2 separate regions of the Homo sapiens genome follow, and region 2 is linked to region 1. Evidence: fine-mapped expression QTL. A gene starts in region 1. The other region holds a variant in brackets. All regions are shown on one strand. Distances are between the middles of the regions.

Region 1 (2,903 bases):
AATCAAGGCTAGGAGTTTGAGACTGCAGAAAGAAACCCTGTCTCTAAAAAAAAGGTCCAGGTAATTTCAGGGTCCAGCTCCACCACAAGCGCAGCTCCAGGGGCTGTTGAGTTTTGCCTTTATCATTCCAAGTAGTCCCTGCTCCAGACCAAGTCCCACCATCTGGCAGTCAGGTCAGTCCAACCACAGTCATATCAGGGCCCTTCCAGGAATTCTCGACGCAAACTGGAGGCCGATGGCGCGGGTCTTTTCGTGGACGGCGGCAGCACGGTCCTCGGCTTGCGTCCGTAGTTGCTCAGGCTTCTGGTTCAGGGCTGGGCGGCGGCGCCCCTGCGGCGGGCGGCCCGCACCAGGCTCTGCTGCAGCACGGGGTAGAGGCGCTGGCAGCCCTCGAGGCCCAGGCGTACGGCCTCCGCCCAGCTCTCTGTCAGGCCGCCCTCGCCGCTGCCCAGCAGCCCGGCCACCTGATTCAGCACAGGCATGAGCGCCACGGTGAGGCCGGCGGCGGCGCGCTCTTCCTCGAGCCGCGTGGGGTCCAGGAGCCAGGTGGGCGCGGGCCCCGGCGCGAGGCTGAGGCCGCAGCCCACCACCAGGTCGTACATCTCCACGCCCGCGTCGGCCAGGGCGAGCGCGGCGGCGGTGAGCGCGGCGGCCAGGGCCGAGCCACCGTCCTCCAGCAGCAGCGCCGACACCTCGAGCTGCGCGCGCGGGTAGCGGCCCAGGCGCACAGCCGGCTCCAGCGCCTCCTGCAGCGCCAGCGCCAGCTCACGCTCCTCGCAGCCGCCCGGGGGAGCGCGGCGCCGGCGGCCCGCGAAGGGTGCGCGGCGGAAGTCGCAGAGCAGGCGACCGCGCAGCGCGGCCGGGGCCTCGCCGCCTGCTCCGGCCGGGCCGCCGCCGCGCTCGCCGCCCTCGGCCTGTCGCGGGCCCGACACGGCACACAGCACCTTGGTGCCTCCCGCCTCCAGGTAGGCCGAGCCCTTGGCCTGGCTCAGCAGCCCGGCGCGCGCGTACACGGGCCGTAGCCGCGTTGGGTCGCGGGTGCCGGGCGCCTCCTCCTCGTCGGCCGCGTACAGCTGCGGCGGCTGCGATTCTTCAGGGCCGCGGATGCGGCGGTGATCCCCAGGCATGGCGGTTCTTGGCGTGCGAACCCCTTCCGCCCAACGCCCTGCCGCATCCACTGGTTCTTCCGTTGTTTAAAGACGCGCGGCTGCGCATGGGCTGTCGAGAGAGCGGCGGGAGGCACTACAGCGCCCCTGGAGGCCCGGAGGGAGAACGGCCCGGTCCCAGTTGTGCAGGGTAGCCGGATCCATCCATCTTGCTGGAAGGGAGGGGGGAGAGCAGCTCCAAGAAAGGCTTCTCTGCTTCCAACTACCTCCACCCCTCATCTACTGAATTATGAACGCCTTGCTCCAAGTCACCCCACCTATTTGGCCTCCACCTCCACAGACGTTTGAGGCAGCCCTAGGGGCTGTTCCCAAAATTTTGGGTTCTGGGGCTGGACTAGGTGAACACCACAGCAGCCAGCAGGAGCCACAGCATTTATTCTACAGACGCCAAAGGCTGTCAAAAGAGCCAGCCCCTATTGGGAAGAGGGATAGAGATCATGCGGCATTAAGTATTGCACGTGGTCCTTTTATTCTCTGCAGCAAAAACGATTCCTACTTGCTGACGCGGAAAGCTCAGGTCTGGAGAGCCGTTATCTATAGATGCGAGCGTGACGATCAACAGCAATGCGGGGTTAGTGGTTCTAGACCGATGGCACTGACGTGGAGGGCTCAGGGCAGAAATTTAAGGGGCACTGAGACATAGGACTGCTCCCAAGTGTGTTCCAGTTACTGCTGGGTTAGGAGGGGCTCTTTAAAGGTCCCAAGATTCAAATGTTCTTGTAGCAGATGAAGAGCTCTTGGCTGGACGGATGGATCCAGTGGGAGCCTCCTCCTTCCCCACTCAGTTCTTTACATCCCCGAGGCGCAGCTGGGCGAAGGAAGTGGCCAGCTGCAGCGCCTCCTGCAGGCAGCCAACGTTCTTGCCTGTGGCCTGTGCAGACACATCCTTGCCACCACCTTTACCGTCCATCAAGCCTGACACCTGCTGCACCCACTCGCTGGCTTTTAAGCCCCGATTGGCTGCATTCTAGAAGACAGGAAGGGAAGGGGGAGTCAGCACAGAAGATGGGATTGAGGGAGGAATGCAGGGAAAGAAAGGATGGAGGAGCCATCACCCACTCCTTGCCCTGGGTGATACTGCTGGAGGCCGAGACAGACTTTACGGCTGGTACAGGGGGCGGCCATGGCCACTGCCAGGACAGGACAGAGTGGCAAAGCCAGGTATCAACCAGATGTCTTCACCAATAAGAAGGCCTGGGTAAGGGGTACTGGCAAAGGTAACCAACCGGTGGGCAGAAAGGCTGTTTCGAATGCAGGCTGTACACACACAGGCCTCAGCCAACAACCTTAAGACCTAACACTTCCCACTGGTGCGAGGTGGTGCTGACCTGGGGAACTTGACACAGGCACGTGATCTTGCCAGCCTCATTGTCCACCGTGAAGAGCATGGCAGAAGTCTGAGGGGAGTGCATCTTGAAGAGCTTCAAGGCTTCATTCAGGGCCTGTGGGGAGGACCTGGCTCAGGCCACGGTGCTGGAGCAGGGACCCTCACTAGTGTGAGCATTTGCAGCCCTCAGAAGGCCTGCCACCCACCCCTACCCCTTCCCAGAGCAGGGGCTGTGCCCAGGGCCTGTGGGGAGGACCCCAGCGCCGGGCCCTGCCCCTACCCTGGCCCAGGTATGCCTCCCACATGCAGGGAGCTGCTGCTCCTCCCAATCTCAATCCCAGACCGTGGGCCCTTAGGCAACCACTTCGCTCAGAGCCACAGAGGCCACATGTCAGCCACCAGAGAGCTGA
Region 2 (2,903 bases), 510 kb before region 1:
GGAGTCTCTTTCTGTTGTTAAGGCTGGAGTACAGTGGTGCAATCTCAGCTCACTGCAGCCTCTGCCTCCTGGGTTGAAGTGATTCTCCTGCCTCAGCCTCCCAAGTAGCTGGGATTACAGGCATGTGCTACCACGCCCAGCTAATTTTTTGTATTTTTAGTTCAGATGGGGTTTTATCCTGTTGGCCAGGCTGGTCTGGAATTCCTGACCTCAAGTGATCCGTCCGCCTCAGCCTCCGAAACTGCTGGGATGACAAGCATGAGCCACCGCACCTGCTCCCTGCCCTGTTTTTTTTTTTTTTTTTTTTTTTTTTAAGACAGAGTCTCACTCTGTCGCCCACGTTGGAGCAGGCGAGGACCTCAGAGCTATAGGAAGCTTTGTTGTCTTCATTATCTAGAAATTAAAAGCCGGGAGTTGGAGAATTCTCAGGAGCCCTCTCCTTCTGATGAAAGAACACAAGCATCCTCATGAGCCACCTGCTAATGCATGGTGTCCACCTGGGTGGCTGCTTTTCTGCACAAGGAGAAGTCCCCAAAGACCCCTTCCTTTTCTCTGTGCTGCGGATGATGGACTTTGTATATTAGCTCAGAGCCATTGTTGAGCCTGTCTGGGGACCTGGGTTATCCTCAGTGGTTCCTGTGGATTCCAGCCAAGTATTTCTGGGGGAGAAAATGTTCTTGGTATTAGGGTAGAAGAGATTCTTCTACTAGAAACCCCATCCATCCCTTCCTGTCCTCCTACCCGCCACCACTATGGCTATTACACAGCACTCACACCATTGTGTTGGGCTTCCTGTGTTTTGGTGTGTCCTGCTCTAATTTAAGTTATGTATTGCCGGAATTAGGCCATCCTTTACTGGGCTTAGAACACTCTGATTAAACTGAAATTTCTGCCAGGCACAGTGACTCACTCCTGTAATCCCAGCACTTTGGGAGGCCGAGGCAGGTGGATCACCTGAGGTGAGGAGTTTAAGACCAGCCTGGCCAACATGGTAAAACCCCATCTTTACTAAAAATACAAATATTAGCCACATGTGGCGGTATGCGCCTGTAATCCCAGCTACTCGGGAGGCTGAGGCAGGAGAATCACTTGAACCTGGGAGATGGAGGTTGCAGTGAGCCGAGATTGTGCCACTGCACTCCAGCCTGGGTGACAGAGCAAGACTCCATCTCAAAAAAACAAAACAAAAACAACAACAAAATGCTCATTTCTCTCAAAAAGGACATTCATTTGTTCTGAAGAGACTTGATTCAAGGTAGCAAATTGAGTCGTGTTTTTTTTTGACGGAGGCTAGCTGGGATTACAGGCACATACCACCAGGCCCAGCTAATTTTTGTATTTTTAGTACAGACGGGATTTCAGTATGTTGGCCAGGCTGCTTTCGAACTCCTGACCTCAAGTTATCCACTGGCCTTGGCCTCCTAAAGTGCTGAGATTACAGGTGTGAGCCACCATGCCCGGCCTGGTTATTTGGTTATTCTTATTTTTATGTCTATGTATGTATGTTATGTTATGTATGTATGTATGTATGTATGTATGTATGTATGTAAGAGTCTCGCTGTGTTGCCCA[G/A]GCTAGAGTGCATTGGCACCATCTCGGCTCACTGCAACCTCCGCCTCCCAGGTTCAAGCAATTCTCCTGCCTCAGCCTCACGAGTAGCTGGGATTACAGGTGCCCACCACCACACCCAGCCAATTTTTGTATTTTTAGTAGAGACAGGGTTTCGCCATGTTGGCCAACCATGTAGCTAGGACTACAGGTGTGCGCCACCATGCCTGGCTTTTTTTTTGTATTTTTAGTAGAGATGGGGTTTCGCCATGTTGGCCAGGCTGGTCTCAAACTCCTGACCTCAAGTGATCCGCCCACCTTGGCCTCCCAAAGTGCTAGGATTACAGGTGTAAGCCACTGTGCCATGCCTTTTTTTTTTTTTTTTTTGTGACAGGCAGGGTCTTGCTCTGTCACCTAGGCTGGAGTTTGGTGGCAGGATCTCAGCTGCAACCCTCTCCTCCTCCCGAGCCCAAGTGATCCTCCTACCTCAGCCTCCCAGGTAGCTGGGACTACAGGCAGCACCATGTGCAACTAATTTGTTTCACTGATTTTTATTTGTTTGCAGGGTTTCACTATGTTGGCCAGGCTGGTATTGGACTCCTGAGCTAAAGTGATCTGCGGGCTTCAGCCTCTCAAAACGTTGGGATTACTGGTCTGGATCACTGCGTCCAGGCAGTAAGTTTTTCTTCTTTTGAGACACGGTCTCTCTCCGTCACCCAGGCTGGAGTGCAGTGGCATGATCTCAACTCATTGCAACCTCACCCTCTCGGGCTTAAGCAATCCTCCCACCTCAGCCTCCCAAGTAGCTGGGACTGTAGGTGTGTATCACCATACATGTTAATTTTTGTATATTTTTTAGAGATGGGGTCTCACTATGTTGCCCAAGCTGGTCTCAAGTTCCTGAACTTGAGCAATCCTCCCACTTTGGCCTCCCAAAGTGTTGGGATCATAGGCGTGAACCACAGCAACTGGCCCATCACTTTTTTTTTTTTTTTTTGAGACGGGAGTCTTGCTCTTGTTGCCCAGGCTGAAGTGCAATGGCACGATCTCAGCTCACCACAATCTCCGCCTCCCGGGTTCAAGCCATGCTCCTGCCTCAGCCTCCCAAGTAGCTAGGATTACAGGTGCCTGCCACCATGCCAGGCTAATTTTGTATTTTTAGCAGATACAGGGTTTCTCCATGTTGCTCAGGTTAATCTCGAACTCCCGACCTCAGGTGATCCGCCTGCCTTGGCCTCCCAAAGTGCTGGGATTACAGGAGTGAGCCACCATGCCTGGCTCTGGTCCAAGACTTTTTAAAATTACATGTGAGGCCCGGCATGGTAGCTCATGCCTGTAATCCCATCACTTTGTGAGG

The links. PIP is the estimated chance that this variant, and not a neighbour inherited with it, causes the effect.
Region 2: its variant is fine-mapped to the expression of EXOSC6 in esophagus muscle (GTEx, PIP 0.96).

Annotation. Positions count from the first base shown.
Region 1 is chr16:70,250,774-70,253,676 of GRCh38, forward strand. It overlaps EXOSC6 (exosome component 6), which reads right to left and starts at 1,167. Exons shown (of 1, transcript NM_058219.3): 1 at 1-1,167. The coding sequence starts at 1,127. The coding sequence ends at 309. It overlaps AARS1 (alanyl-tRNA synthetase 1), which reads right to left. Exons shown (of 21, transcript NM_001605.3): 20 at 2,495-2,608; 21 at 1,525-2,133. The coding sequence ends at 1,948. RefSeq lists silencers at 374-693, 824-913 and enhancers at 1,294-1,343, 1,384-1,573, 2,208-2,708.
Region 2 is chr16:69,737,120-69,740,022 of GRCh38, forward strand. The region is part of intron 1 of NQO1-DT (NQO1 divergent transcript); the gene reads left to right. Among named protein-coding and RNA genes, the nearest start is that of NQO1-DT, 12 kb to the left of the region's middle. The variant G/A (reference allele first, on the strand shown) is at 1,571.